Linked DNA regions of Homo sapiens: region 2 is linked to region 1. A link means that fine-mapping ties the variant in region 1 to the expression of a gene that starts in the linked region. Tissue or cell type: whole blood. Region 1 holds a variant in brackets; the other region holds the start of a gene. All regions are shown on one strand. Distances are from middle to middle.

What was found. PIP is the estimated chance that this variant, and not a neighbour inherited with it, causes the effect.
Region 2: it holds the start of ST6GAL1, and the variant in region 1 is fine-mapped to the expression of ST6GAL1 in whole blood (TOPMed, PIP above 0.99).

The regions. Positions count from the first base shown.
Region 1 is chr3:187,111,153-187,119,260 of GRCh38, reverse strand. No RefSeq gene overlaps it. Among named protein-coding and RNA genes, the nearest start is that of RPL39L, 24 kb to the left of the region's middle. The variant G/T (reference allele first, on the strand shown) is at 3,287.
Region 2 is chr3:186,926,879-186,934,986 of GRCh38, reverse strand. ST6GAL1 (ST6 beta-galactoside alpha-2,6-sialyltransferase 1) reads right to left here and starts at 4,461. Exons shown (of 8, transcript NM_173216.2): 1 at 4,153-4,461. RefSeq lists enhancers at 2,015-2,074, 2,095-2,144, 4,238-4,846 and silencers at 4,041-4,230, 4,471-4,550.

The sequences.
Region 1 (8,108 bases):
ATAAGTAATCTAGAAATGATTTTAAATATACAGAAGAAGTGAATAGGTTATATGCAAATAAGTATGGCCATTTCATATAAAGGACTTGAGCATCTGTGGTTTTAGTATCTGTAGAAGTCCTAGAACCAATCCCTGGCAAATAACAAGTGATGACTGTACAAAGAAGGCCTCGGACATAGATACATTTTTAGTACATAGATAATTTTTTTAAGTGGGCCCTTCATCTTCAGGGATTAGATCAATGTTGTATAGACCTAAGACAACGTGTCCCAGTGGTGGAACAGTGGAGGAAAAATCTGGTCTGTGCATCACGAGATGGTTGTACTAGGGTTAAGAAAATTAAGGGAATCATACTGGGAAAGCTATGATGGAAGAGGAAGGAGGAGCCCATATATAAAATCGAGTATTGGTTTCTATTCTTTTCTTTTTTTTTTTTTTTTTGAGACAGTCTTGCTCTGTCGCCCAGGTTGGAGTGCAGTGATGTGATCCTAGCTCACTGCAGCCTTGAACTTCTGGGCTCAAATGATTCTCCCACCTCATCCTCCTGAGTAGCTAGGATAACAGGTGTGCACCACCATGCCCAGCTAATTTTTTACTTTTTATAGAGACAGGGCCTCACTGTGTTGCCCAGGCTGGTCTCCAACTCCTAGCCTCAAGCAGTCCTTCCACCTTGGCCTCTCAAAGTGCTGGAATTCCAGCCATGAGCCACCACACCCATCTTGGTTTCTGTATCTTGAGTCTAGTTAATTGAACAAGGCTTTACTCCCATAATCTTAAGATTCCTGACTCAATTTTGAAATAATGGAATCCCTGCTTGTGGGAGTGATCCTGTTTCTGGGAAGAATTCTTCCACAATAGAAACAAAAAGCAAAGGACTAGGATTCGGGTAGCTTGAAGTTATGGCTCTTCCCATCAGTTTTATGATGTTGGACAACTGGTAGAGAACCTCTCTGGGCCTTAATTATTGTATTTCACCTGGATATATCAGACAGCCGACTTCCTCACTGAGTTACAAGGCTTGAATGAGATTGAAAACAGCTTCATAAACTGAGGCAATAAAACAAGGTTTTCATAAAATGCTACTTTAGAGTGTCAGAGGTCTGACTCTGAGCTGAGTTGAGCTGGGTGGGTTGGCTGAACCTCTCTACCTTGGTATGGTCTGTTTCTGAGTGGGGGTTTGGGCTCATCTGTCTTTAGGCTGCACCAAGGGCTGTGACTACACGCTAGCATTGATGATTGAAAACATTTTAATAATTTGCCATAAATATCCAAGACAATAGGTAGTTTTCTGATTCTAATAGATTATGTTCTGAGCATAGGCCATCTGTCACCTAATGAAATCTGAGGTCAATTATAGAGAATTTTTCCTCCATTTGATGGGACCCATAAAATTTAGGTCACTCTCAAGCACCAGCACCAACCTTAACAGAGAGCACATATCAAAAGATACAGATGTCTTTTGTTTGCCACATATCATATGAGAAAATATACTTGAAATTGTAGGATGATGTAAATGGGTATGTTCAGTATAGGTCTACATTTGATCCAGCAATCCCACTACGGGGTATCTACCCAGAGGAAAAAAAGTCATTATACGAAAAAGATACCTGCACACACATGTTTATAGCAGCACATTTCGTAATTGCAAAAATGTGGAACCAACCCAAATGCCCATCAATCAATGAGTGGATGAAGAAACTGTTTTTTATAGATAGATAGATAGATAGATAGATAGATAGATAGATAGATAGATAGATGATAGATGGATGATGGAATACTACTCAGCCATAAAAAGGAATTAATTAATGGCATTCGCAGAAACCTGGATGAGATTGGAGACTATTATTCTAAGTGAAGTAACTCAGGAATGGAAAATCAAATATTGTATGTTCTCACTCATAAGTGGGAGCTAAGTATGAGGATGCAAAGGCATAAGAATGACACAATGGACTTTGGGACTCAGGGGGAAAGGGTGGGAAGGGAGTGAGGAATAAAAGACTACAAACTGGGTGCAGTGTATACTGCTTGGGTGATGGGTGAACCGAAAATCTCACAAATTACCACTAAAGAACTTAACTTATGTAACCAAACACCACCTGTTCCCCAATAACCTGTGGAATTAGAAAATTTTTAAAAAATGTATTAAATCCACTCTTTGGAACTCAGATAACATCTCCAGAACACCCCAGTGCTTTGTTCCCAACATCCTTTCTAAGTCTGCACCAAACAGCACAGGCACTCTCTTCTCCTCACGTATCTTCCTTGATCATCACTGAAACTCATGTAGAAGGATGAACTGGAGAGCCGAGTGCTGAAAACCCCTCACAGCTGTCTTCTCTTCTCACAGCCTTTCATCAGAATGGCATCACACTATCTAATTTTCCCCATCTGGTAGGTGAGAAACGGTATCTCAGTATAGTCTTAATTTGCATTCATTTGTTTGAGTGAGGTTGAACACCTTTTCATATGTGTAAGGGCCATTTTTATATCGTGTTTGTGTGTGTGTGGTCTGTTCATGTTTTAAGCCCATTTTCATGTCATATTTTTGGACTTTTTCCTCTCCATTTTTAAGAGTTCTTTATATATTAGGGATATTAGCCCTTTCTGATGTATGTTGCAAATTTTTTCTTCAAATTTCTCCGTTGTATTTTTACTTTGTTTATGGTATTTTCCCACACAAAAGGTTTTTTATGCAACAAAATTTATCAAATTGTTTTTACTATATCGAGATTCTGAGTCATAATTAGAAATCCTTTCTCTATACCCATTTTTTAAATGAATTTGCCTCACCTTTTCTTCCAGTATTTGTTTCTATGCATTAATGAAATTATTGTCTAGATATAAAAACCCCAAATATTCTATAAAATAGATCCTAGAACCAACAGGTGAGGTTAGCAAGTCACAATATATATGGCTAATATTCAAAACACAATTGAATTTCAGTATTATAAAAATAAATGATTGGAAATTAAAAATTTTAAAATACTACCATAGTACCATTTACAATACATCAAAAAACAAAATACTTAAGAATAAATCTAACAAAAATATGCAAAGGATTGTATGCTGAAAACTGCAAAACACTGCTGAAAGAAAGCAAAGCCTTAAATAAATGGAGAGATATACTGTATTCATAGATTGGAGAACTCAGTAGTGGTAAAATGTCATTTTTCTTCAAATTGACCTATAGATTTAACACAATTCCAATCAGAAACATAATAGGCTTTCCTGTAGAAATAAGTTGATTCTAAAATTTATGTGGAAATGCAAAGAATGTAGAATACCC[G/T]AAATAATTTTGAAAAAAGCAACAAATTTGGAGGGTTCATACTAACTGATTTTAGTTTTTTTAATTTTTAAAATTTTTTGTAGAGATGAGGTCTCCCTATGTTGCCCAGGTGGATCTCAAACTCCTGGGCTCAAGTGATCCTTCTGCCTTGGCCTCCCAAAATGCTAGAATTACAGACATGAGCCACCACACTGGGCCCTAACTGATTTTAACACTTATGGTAAAGCTATAGTAATTGAGCTAATGTAGGCTTGGTGAAGTAAGATAGACAAGTAGAATGAAGAAACAAGACAGGAAATTTAAAAAATAGATCGATGCATAGAGGATCAATGAACTTTTGACAAAGGTGCAAAGGCAATTCAGTGGACAAAGGATAGTCTTTACAACAAATTATGCACATCTACATGTTAAAAAAAAAACCCACCTTGATCCATATCTTGTACCATATACAAAAATAAACTCTAATGGGATCATAGACCTAAATGTAAAATCTAATGGTATAAAGCTTCTAGAAGACAGCATAAAAGAAATATTCTTAAGTTTGGGTGAGGCAGAGGTGTCTTAAATATGACAACAAAAACACAATTCATAAAATTAAAAACTTGATAAGTTGGACTTTATTAAATTTAAAATCATTTCTCTTTAAGACATTAAGAGAATGAAAAGTAACATCAGAAGCAGAATATTTGCTCTCTCTAGATATCTCTGTATACTACATATATCAAATAAGAGCCTTATATCCAGATTATAAAAAGAACTATCAAAGTTCAATAATAAGGAAACAACAATTTATAAAACAGGCAAAGAATTTGAACAGACGCTTCATCATAGATGATATGTAGTTGGCAAATAAGCACATTAAAAGAGGTTCATAGTGATATGCAATTAACATCATTTTTAGGATATACAAAATAAAGCTACAGTAAAATACCACTATTGACCTATAAGAATGAATAAACAAAAAAAAAAGCAAAAGAATACAGTTGACAATAGCAAGTGCTGTCAAGGATGCAAAGCAACTGAAATTCTCATACATTGCTGGTGGGAATAAAAAATAGGGAATAGTTTGGGCATTTTTAAAGTTAAACCTGTATTTACTCCTGGAAAGCTTTCTTCTTCTATTACAGTTCTGTTTTTGTTTTTTTAGGGACAGGGTCTCACCCTGTCACCCAGTTCAACAGTTCAATTATAGTTTTAAATGATAGTTACATTGTTTGCTATTTCTTCTTCATGTACTCCAGTTATACCAGTGTTGCTTTGGACTGTCTTCCCTGTCAATCACTTTCTTCCTGACCCATTTCACTTCTTTATTTCATTTCATTTTCTTGCTTGTTTGCCTTTGTTCAGTGCCCATATTAAATTTCCATCTGAGTACATTCTCCTTTGGGTGCTATAGCGAGGTGATGATGACCACGCCCACCCCCACACCCCAAAAATGTCTACTCAGAACCTGGGAATATGATCTTATTTGGAAAAAGGGTCTTTGCAGGTGTAATTAAGTATCTCAAGATAAAATCATCCTAGGTTTTCTGGTTGAGCCCTAATTCCAATTCCAAGTATCCTTAGAATAGAAGGAGAGAAGACACATAGAAACGATGGTAATGTGGGAAGGAAGGTGGAGATTAGAGTGACGCATCTATAAACCAAAGAACAACAAGGATTGCTGGCAGCCCCCAGAAGCTATGAAGGAGAGATAGAGCAGACCCTTCCCTCAGAGCCTCGGGAAGAAACAAGCCCTGCCAGCCCCTTGATTTGAGACCTCTGGCCTCCAGAACTGTGGGAAAATAAATTCCTATTGTTTCAAGCTCTCAGTTTATAGTAATCTGTTAAGATAGCCCTAGGAAACCAATATAAGTACCCTCTTAAAATTTATGTTTCAATCCTAAGATTATTTTTCTTTTTCTTTTATTTTCTTTCTGAGTTCAATCAACACACTGTTCATTACTTCCCATTTTTTTCTAAATCCATTTATATTTTAATTTCTGATTAAAGATAGTTTTTCAGGCCAGGCGCAGTGGCTCATGCCTGTAATCCCAGCACTCTGGGAGGCCAAGACAGGTGGATCACTTGAGGTTAGGAGTTTGAGACCAGTCTGGACAACATGGTGAAACCCCGTCTCTACTAAAAATACAAAAATTCCCTGGGTGTGATGGCGCCCACCTGTAATCCCAGCTACTTGGGAGGCTAAGGCAGGAGAATCTCTTGAACCTGGGAGGTTCAAAAAATAAATATAGTTCTAAAATTTATGTTTGAACCTGGGAGGTTCAAATATATACATATATACACACATATATACATATATATACATATATACACATATATGTATATATATGTATAGCTTTTCACATGTCTATACTTGTTTGAGGTTATTTGAGTCTGGAGTGTAGCATTGCAGTTTTCCTCTGCTTCATGGTCATTTTTGTATTTACCTCCCTTGGAGTGGTGGAAAATTTTTATCACTTGAGGTGTGTTGAGTCTCTTTCTTTAAGAAGCTTTGCATAGATTTATTCCATTTTTTGTAATTCTTTTTGTGGATGTGGGCTAATTTACAAGATTCTTCATTTAATGGTGCCCTCTTCTGTCAATGTGGTGAAGTACAGCTTCTTTAATGATTGTGTTTTGGTACTTGGGGGAGGAATAGTGTGTCTTCCAGGAGATATCCAAGCCTGTTATGCACACCAAAAAATATAAAGCTCTATCTTAAAGGCTTTACCTTTCAAATCCAGTATAGTTGAAATTTATTGTCTCTGAAGGAAGAACCTCCAAGAGCACACAACACGGTGTCCTTGCATTACTGTCAGGTGATAACTTCACATTTCCTTATATGGCATGTTTCCTCTGAGCCATCCATTCCCACCTTCACCCTGCTGCCTCCTCCCATGTGCCCTCTCTCTCTAAAAACCACGTTCTGGTATGTCCCACAAAAGCAAGGAGATGTAAACTAAGAAAGAAGCAGTGTGAGGGAAAAAGGAACAAGATTCACAGAGGAGCAAAGGAAATTCCTAAGATGATGATGAAATGAAGTTCTAGGAGAACACTTGTTTAATGTAGGGTTAGAGATCACCAGTTCAGGAGAGACAGCGCCCCCAGAGACTCCCCTCCAAAATGAAGCTTATAGGCCAGGCGTGGTGGCTCATGCCTGTAATCCCAGCACTTTGGGAGGCCAAAGCGGGCGGATCGCTTGAGGTCAGGAGTTCAAGACCAGCCCGGCCAATGTGACAAAACCCTGTCTCTACTGAAAATACAAAAATTAGCCAGGTGTGGTGGCACACACCTGTAGTCCCAGCGACTTAGGAGGCGGAGGTGGGAGAATTGCTTGAGGTAGGGAGGCAGAGGTTACAGTGAGCCAAGACCATGCCACTGCACTCCAGCCTGTGCGACAGAGTGAGATTCTGTCTCGAAAGAAAGAGAGAGAGAGAGAGGAAGGAAGGAAGGAAGGAAGGAAGGAAGGAAGGAAGAAGAAAAGAGAAGAGAAAAGAGAAAGAGAAAGGAAGGAAGGATTAAAAAGAAGCTTATAGAATATTTAATATTTATAAATAATTGTACCAACAAAAGTTTGACAGCTGTGTCAGAATTTGGGGATAAACTGGTGATATTACAAAAGAATACTAAGCAAACAAAAAAATGTAATCATTAACTCCAGGGTAGGGGGGTGGTTAAAGAAAAGGAAAGAGGCCAGGTGCAATAGCTCACACCTGTAATCCTAGCACTTTGGGAGGCTGAGGCAGGTGGATCATCTGAGGTCAGGAGTTCGAAACCAGCCTGACCAACATGGAGAAACCCTGTCTCTACTAAAAATACAAAATTAGCTGGGCATGGTGGCACATGCCTGTAATCCCAGCTACTCGGGAGGCTGAGGCAGGAGAATCGCTTGAACCACAGAGGCGGAGGTTGTGTTGAGCTGAGATCACGTCATTGCACTCCAGCCTGGGCAACAAGAGGGAAACTCTCTCTCAAAAAAAAAAAAAAAATGCAGGGGGCGGGGAAAGAAAATGTAACCATGAAACCCATACATAACTCAGCTGTAAATAACATTTACATAGTCAAAACATATAATCTTTGAATATTGACTTAACCAAATATGATGCTATTATAACTACATTAGGAGTGGGGTATAGAAGAATTGTGTGTGGATGAGGTGTGAATTGTAAGATGGCTAAATCTTTATCATCTATTGTAGTAAATAATATTTAAAGTCAAAAAACAAAAACATGGCAGTATAATCATATCCTTTAGGAAAATGAAAGTGAATACTATAATAAATGGCGAAGATTTGAAAGTGGTTCCCTCTGGGAACAGGAATGTATAGGTGAATGGGAGAGAAGAAATGGAGAATGGGTGCTTTCATTGTGATACTCAGGTGATGGTCTGAGGATCATGCAGAAGAAGTATTAATGTAGCATTCTCCTGACTTCCATATCAAATACAGGCACTCCTTGACTTAAGGTGGGATTAAGTCTGAACAAACTGATATTTTCAACTTATAATTGGTTTATCCTGATGTAGCCCCATTGTAAATTGAGAAGCATACTGAATGCTTATAACTTTTGCACCATCCTAACGTCAAAACCTCTGAAGTTGAACCATAGTAAATCGGGGACCATCTGCGTCTCCACTCACGCACACTACAGCTCCTTTGTAGGCCAATTCCCCTACACCGTCTCTACATCTTATATTCTAAGACTCAAATCAGGTCCCGTATTCTCCTGAATGTCTTCCCTGTTTGCTTGAACAAAACTGGTCTCTGAGCACTCATATTCATAATCTATTATACTTCTTTGGGCAGCTCATCAAATTCTCTTTCATAGTATTAGGTAAGAGT
Region 2 (8,108 bases), 180 kb after region 1:
GAGACCATCCTGGCTAACAAGGTGAAACCCCGTCTTTACTAAACATACAAAAATTAGCCGGGCGTGGTGGCGGGCACCTGTAGTCCCAGCTACTCGGGAGGCTGAGGCAGGAGAATGGCGTGAACCCGGGAGGCGGAGCTTGCAGTGAGCCGAGATTGCACCACTGCACTCCAGCCTGGGTGACAGAGCGAGACGCCATCTGAAAAAATAAATAAATAAATAAATACATAAATAAATAAAATTTTTTAAAAGCTGGTAAGCACTCAAGCCTGCCAAGAGGTCTGACCAGTCATAAGAATGCATCATGTGACTTAATGCCCTCAACAACCCCAGGAGATTCATACGCCTTACTCCCCTCACTTTACACAACGCAGAGGCAGCCTGCTGGTTTTCTGTTGTTGTTGTTTTGTTTTATTTTCTGTTTTTGAGACAGGGTCTCGCTATGTCCCCAGGCTGGAGTACAGTGGTGAGATCGCGGCTCACTGCAACCTCCACCTCCCAGGCTCCAGCGATTCTCCTGTCTCAGCCTCCCAGGTAGCTGGGACCACAGGAGTACGCCACCATGCCCAGCTAATTTTGTTCTTTTATTTTTTGTAGAGATGGCGGTGGGGGAGGTAGTCTCACTATGTTGCTCAGGCTGGTCTCAAACTCCTGAGCTCAAGGAATTCGAACTCTTCCCTCCTCGGCCTCCTGAAGTGCTGTGATTACTGGAGTGAGCCACCACACCTGGCCCAGCCTGCTGGTTTTAAAGTAATACTAGAGACAGGAAGATGACCCCAAACCCCTCCTATGGCCTGAGCATCTTCCGCTCCGCTGGAACAGCCTGTGCAGAGACTGGGCAAGGAGAACCCTCACTGTACAAAGAAGGAAACTGGAGCCCAAGAGGTTAAGTAGCATGAACAGCTAAGTGGCGCCTCTCTCTTCTGTCTTCTCACTGCCTCTTGCCTTATGATTTCATACAAAGCAGCCCCTAAATGGGGAAGCACAAGACAGAGACATGGAGGAACCCAGCACAAGAGTAAAGTGAACCGTTCAGCAAACACTAAAGAAAGCTGATCCCCAGAGATAATTGCACTATTCAGCATACCTACTACTGGGATCCCTGGCTTTGCTTAATAACCAAACCTATTTAAATCCATAAGGAATTGGTTCTCTGACTTAAAGGGTGTTGTTATAACAACCATAACTTTGGCTTTTCTCTGGAGTACCAACAACTACTGGTTTGATGCAACCATTTCCCTTTTACGCAAAAAGGTGCACTAAAAGTAGACCACGCATTGTTGTGTATCATTAGGCAAGCAATTTCTCTTCTCTAGGCCTCACTTTTCCCATCTGGAAAGTAAAAGGGTCCAGTCACATGATTTCTGAAGTTCCTTACAGGGTCAGCGTCCTGGTGAGAAAACTATACTGCAGTGCCAAGAGGAATTGATGTAGGATTTTTCTTCTTGGTCCTCGGGCCAGCAATGCCCCACCTGTGCTCGCTCGGCCATGCAGGTGTGTCCCAGCTCACTGTATTATAGCTTGTACCCGCGTTCGGTGGTTCCGAGCTCGTGCACCACACCAAAGGATAATGAGGATACACTGGACATTGAAGGGAGAGGAAGGCAGATAAGAATTTTATTGAGTGTTGAAAACAGCTTTCAGCAGAGAGGGGACACCGGGTTGGTCCCCTACCTGAAGACGGAAAAGTTCCCCAATGTGGCTGGGTCAGGGGCCTTTTATGGACTCAGAATAGGGAGTGCATGCTGACCGGTTTGTGAGTATGCAAAAAAGATGAAAGCAAAGACACCACTCAAAGGTGGGCACGGCAGCGTAGAAAACCAATTAGGAAAAAGTGGGTATATGTAAAACAGGCGAAATGTAGGAATCAATTAGGGGAAAGCACGCCAAACAAGTTCTCACTCTGGTCTGAGGATTTAACTCGTAGCTTGGCTTTCAGGCTTTAAACTGTCTTTGGCCTGGAGGTGGGGGTTTCACCGGGTACCTGACCCTATCTGCCTAGGCATCCAGCTGCCTCCTGTTGCTACCAGAATCACATTGAAAGTGAAACACGCTGGAAACTCTAAGGAAAAGAAACAAGTGTAACTAGGAGATAACAGGCACAGTGCAAAACAACATGTTAACTTTGGGGAAATCCGGCTTCTCAGTGTTTTTTTGGTTTTCCTACTTCTCTGCCAAATACAAAAATAAGCAGCTACTTCCATGGGACTCTCGTTAAAAAAAAAGTAACTTTAATAAGATCAGTGAAAACAATGCTTTGTTCTCCCACAAGTGGCTCAGGAGTAGCTTGCTAAGACACACTTTCTTCCCCGTGGGGCTGATGTCAACAGCCCATGCTTTTGCCCAAACAAAGGCCTCCTGGCACAAGGATGAGAGGCAAAACATCTGAGTCTCCGTAGCTGGCCTTATTCCAATTTGAGGGGAAGGGGCAGCCAGGAGAGAAAAATAACTAAGCTTTTGAAAGGCTTGAAGGAGAGTAAGGAATTACTAAATCTATTTTTTCTCAACAGAATAAAGAATTCTTGAAAGGGATAATGGAAGGGTGCAGCTTTCTATTTGAATTACTCTTTGTTTCACCCTATTCTGCCTAAGGCCACTGCCTTTTAGGCCAATCACAGAATCCCGGTTTTGCCTTTAGTTGCCCGCTGAGCGATGCAGTGGGAGTTGGGAGACCCACACTCAAGTGTTCTCTCTGTGGCCCGTTTCACCCGGTTTAAACTTGGACAAGTGGCTGAACTCTCCGGCCTCAGCTTCCTGCCTGTAAAATGAGAAGGCTCCCTAGATGCTCTCTAGACCTTTTCAATAACAGCGGAATAGGATTGGAGGCTCTCCAGTTCCCCCCCCGGGGACAGGTTAATCTTCAGCCACACTAGCCAAGGTGAGGCAGCAGCCCGCCCGCTCAGCAGGCACACACTGGGGCGGCGGCGCCTCCATTCCTGCTCACACTGCACGCCCACAACCTGCACCAACACCATCGCCTCAGAGACCAATTCACCGCGAAACCATCTCCCCGCTGCAGATCGTGTCCGATTAACATCTGCAAAGCTGAGCTGAGCATATGTAAGCAAAGAAAAAGCAAAACAAACAAGAGTTCTCTTTTTCCGGACCTCGGAATTTCTTTCAAATAAACTCAGAACTGAAAATTGTACGTCCCCAGCTAGAATACGAGGTCTCGGCTGGCCTTGCTTGCGAAAATGCATTAACAAGCCAAAAGGGGCTAGTGACATCTGGGGTGTCTGGGCACACGGACACGGGCCTCAGAGGCAAAGAGCAAGACCGCACTGGGCGACTCGTACATTCTTCCCGCAGGCTGAGGAGGCGACCAAAATATCCCCACAGAGGCAATCGCCGGAGTGCGGGGACAATAGTGCACCCAGCACTCTCTTTTTTTGAGGGGCACCCTTAGACCCTTAACCCAACCCACATCTCTAAGAGACCTCCAGGAGGTGAAGGTGAGGGGTGGTCCACTTCACCCAAAAGAATGCGCCACGGCCGGGGACCGACTCAGCCTGGAGTAACCTTTTTGTAGCTGCTTTCTTGTTTTGGTTTCCCTTTTTAAGTCTGGCAGTTTAGTCTGATGCCCAAGCGGTACCTTTTAAATGTCTCTCTCGCCCTCTTCCAGCAAGTGGCGCCTCTAGAGCCACTCCCTCCCCCGAGGCTGAGACAATGGCCCGGCACCGCAGGGCGGCCCCTAAGGGTATGCAGTGCGTCCAGCTCTCCGGGCAGGGCGCACGTGCGTTTGTTATGGTGCCTGTGCCCCCTCCGCTGCCGCGGGCCTCAATTTGTCGATCCGTAAACCCAGACTCTGCAAGGCGCAATGCCCCCACGCCACCCCACCCCATACTGACGGTGCCGTGGAGAAATCCGTGTTCCCCGGGGCTGTGCGCACGTGGGTTTGTTGTGGATCCGCAGGCTCGCGGAGCCAGAGAGAAGCCAGGGTGGCCCTTTGGCCCTGACAAAAATGCACACACCCCCAACCAAAAGGCGGCCAGCCCCGGAGCCAAGGCAGCTGAGGCGGAGCTGGAGAGAGATTCCCTGCGCCCTACGCGCGCCGCGGGCCCCGCGCCTCCGCTATCCTCCCGCGCCCCTTTGCATCACACTCCTCCCGGGATAGCCCGGGCCGCGCCGCCGCCCACCGCACCCCCTACTCACTCGCTGCACTCTCGGCCGCGGAGGCTGCGGTTGCTCAGCACGCTCGGTGGCGGCCGCCCGCTCCGCGCCCACGCCGGTCGGTATCGGCTCCCTTTGTTAACGCCGGGCAGTGCCCCAGGCGTCTTCCCCAGCCCGGCCCTGCCCAGGACTCCCCTCCCCCAGGTGACTCCAGAAAACGCGCTCGGCAAGGGCAGGATCGCCCGGGAGCTGGGGACCCCACTAGGGAGTCTCGAAAGAGGGGTCCGCTGGGGAAGAACGGGGGACAGAAGACGCACAGTGGAAGGGACTGGAGAAGGAAGGAAGAAGAGCGCGGCGGAGGGGCGGGAAGGAAGCGAGTCGCCTCCGTATGCAAATAGAGTTGCGAAGACTGGGTCGGTCTCCGCCCCCACTCCACCTCTCGCCACCGGCCACACCGCGCCCCAAACCGGCCTGGAGGTCGCTAGCGAGCGGGCTTGGGGTTAAAGACTCTTGATGAAGGCACTGGGTGATGCTAGAATCCTGCCTGCTCTCAAGGAGGGTGGATCGAGGGCCGAGTGGGAGGGGCCACGCGGCTGCGCAAGGACCCCTAAATGCCTCTTCCCCGCTTGGCCGCGAGGGGTCAATCCAGCAGTGTCCGGCTTTTGGTCCTAACATGCGGGTGCTGTACACCCGGTCTCTGCTACCGGCTGACTGCGAGACCCTGAGGAAGTCGCTTAACCTCTCCGAAGACTCGTGTTGCTCTTATCTAGAATAGGAAAGAACAAAATCTTTCACTGCGTTTGGCATTAACCTCCTAACATTGAGGCATGACTCCTACTGGGCGCTCTCAAATGGCAAATACAGAAGGAGAGGAGCGTCCTCGAACCCCTGCACCCAGAGGCTTCCACCCCAAGCTGCAGGCTGAAAGACTGAAGCCTCAGCCTGGATGGTGAAGGGAGCGAGGTTCTTTCTTTTCACCCGGACGACGGTGGGGCTGCTGGGGAAGGAAAGAGGATTAACCAAGCTGCGTACTGACCATCCCCGATAGCCCCAAGGCGATTTCCCTAAGAAAGAAAAACTGCCCAACAGGAGGGCGGAAGGGGCCTTTAAGGCCTCCAGTCCAGCCTCCCATAGCCCAAAGAGAGGATGTGACTACCAGAGGCAATAGTCATATCCCAGTTGTCTACTGAGTGCACACTAGGCACCAGGCTGTGTGCTGGGTGGGAAAGGGGAAAGGAAGGAGATACTGGAAGGTTTGGGGGTCCTCTGGGAACACAAAGTCCAGTGCACACTTAAAGTGCCTGAAGCCCAGGCCCAGAGTTCTGTCTCCAAATGAGGTGCCTACCCCACATCACCAACCTTGGAAAGGGAAGTTACATCCGCACCCTGTCCCCAGCACCCTTCTTCCAAACACTGCTTCCTCCCTGTCCTGATCCTGGCTCCCTTCTGCTGATACTGTCATTCCCTTCCCTGCTGCCCCTGAGGCATTTTTGCTCAGTACAAAGAGCTCCAATTGAAGGGAGTGCCAGCCAGAGTGAATTCAAATCTTTATGACCAACTCGCTGTGCCTTCTTGGGTGAGTTCCACATCCTGTGAGCCTCCCTTTCCTCTTCTGCAAAATGGAGATATTAAGGAAAGCGTTGTTTTCAGGATCCTGTGAAATGACCTACGTGAAACACGTAGCTTAGTGTTTGGCATATAGAAGGTGCTCCTGACAGTAAAATGTATGTATGCGTGAATGAATAGAAGCAGCCAAGTTCAGAAGACTATTTCTGGAAGGATGCTACATTGAAGATTTTAGGCCCTATTCGAAAAAGGGAAAAAAAAAAAGGAGGCTATTAAAAGATTCTGTGCAGTAGCATGACATGCATCTTTGTATTTTACAAGGATTCCTCTGGCACCACACTGGAAAATAGATGGCAGAAGCAGAGAATGCAAGAGACTAGATTGGAAGCTGACATCAATGGAGATATAATAAGAGCCTGAACTGTGTCAGTGACTGTAACAAGACAGAAGAAAAGGACATCTAAATAATAGCTACCATTTGGAGATCTGACATGGTTTGGCTCTGTGTCCCCACCCAAAAATCTCATCTTGAATTGTAATCCACATGTGTCAGGGGAGGGACCTCCTGGGAGGTGATTGGATCGTGGGGGGCGGTTTCCCCCATGATGTTTTTGTGATAGGGAGCTCTCACGGGATCTGGTTGTTTGATAAGTGTCTGGCATTTCCCCTGCATTCTCTCTCTCACCTGCCGCCATGTAAGATGTGCCCTGCTTCCCCTTCACCTTCCACCATGATTATAAGTTTCCTGAGGCCTCCCCAGCCATATGGAACTGTGAGTCAATTAAACCTCTTTTGTTTATAAATTACCCAGTCTCAGGTAATTTATAATTTTCTCAGTAGTGTGACAATGGACTAATACAGGATTCAAAGCACCTTATTTATTACATTGTCTCTCCTTTTCATCAGATAAGTAATGGTCTTAGTCCTATTTTATGGATTAGGAAACTGAAGTCATCTAGGAAGTGAAGAGAGAATTTGACACATTCTTCCACTTTCTTTGAAAGCTTTAATCATCTCCTTCATCATCACCCATATGTCAACATTACTTAAGAACTAAGAACAGCCTGGTGCGGTGGTTCACGCCTGTAATCCCAGCACTTTGGGAGGCCTAGGCGGGCGGATCATGAGGTCAGGAGACCAAGACCATCTTGGCTAGCACAGTGGAACCTTGTCTCTACTAAAAACACAAAACAAATTAACCGGGGCTGGGCGTGGTGGCTCACGCCTGTAATCCCAGCACCTTGGGAGGCCGAGGCGGGCGGATCACAGGTCAGGAGATCAAGACCATCCTGGCTAACATGGTGAAACTCCATCTCTACTAAAAATACAAAAACAAAATTAGGCGGGCACGCGATGACGGGCGCCTGTAGTCCCAGCCACTCAGGAGGCTGAGGCCGGAGAATGGTGTGAACCCAGGAGGCGGAGCTTACAGTGAGCCGAGATCACGCCACTGCACTCCACAAAAGCAGAAGGCGCTCTTTCAGAGGTTGTCCAGTCCCCACTCCGCAGTTCTCTTTTGCAGAGAACTGGAAAACCAAATTAAGGAGAAAACAAGGGAAAAGGTTATCTCAACACTGAGATAAGCACAGATGATATGACACGTGCAAAAATTTCCTGGGCGTCTGAGACAGATGAGTGGGCAAGCAAGGGTGCTCCTGGTAAAATTCCAGGATGGGGGCCATTGTGGAGCAGCCTCCACCAAGGTTCTCTCTTATCACTTAGGACCCTCTGACCTATAAGTGAGAGGCAGAGGCTGGGGCATTACTTTGGAGATGATCCTGTCCTCCCAGTCTATACATGTGAGGCTTCTCCTCCCATTTTCTCTGGGGTCCCTGCCTTGACAGGTTGGTTTTGGTTTTTTTGAGAAGTACAGATACCCACTTTCCCTCTGGACAGTATCTCAGTTCTGGGCCCTCCACCCACAGCTTCCTGCTATGGTCTGCATGTTGTATCCCCCCAAAATTCGTACAATGAATTCCTAACCCCCAAGATGATGGTATTTGGAGGTGGGGCATCTGGAGGAGGTGATTAGGTTATGAGGGCAGAGCCCTCACAAATGGAACTAGCGCCCTTATAAAAGAGACCCGGACCAGGCATGGTGGCTCACACCTGTAATCCCAGCATTTTGGGAGATTGAGACGGGCAGATCACCTGAGGTCGGGAGTTCGAGACTAGCCTGGTCAACATGGTGAAACTTCATCTCTACTAAAAATACAAAAAATTAGTTGGGCGTGGTGGCAGTCACCTGTAGTCCCAGGTACTCGGGAGGCTGAGGCAGGAGAATTGCTTGAACCCGGAAGGCAGAGGTTGCAGTGAGCCAAGATCACGCCACTGCACTCCAGCCTGGGCAAACAGAGCAAGACTCTCTCTCAAAAATAAGTAAATAAATAAATAAATATTAAAAAGTAAAATAAAAGAGACTCCAGAGAGCT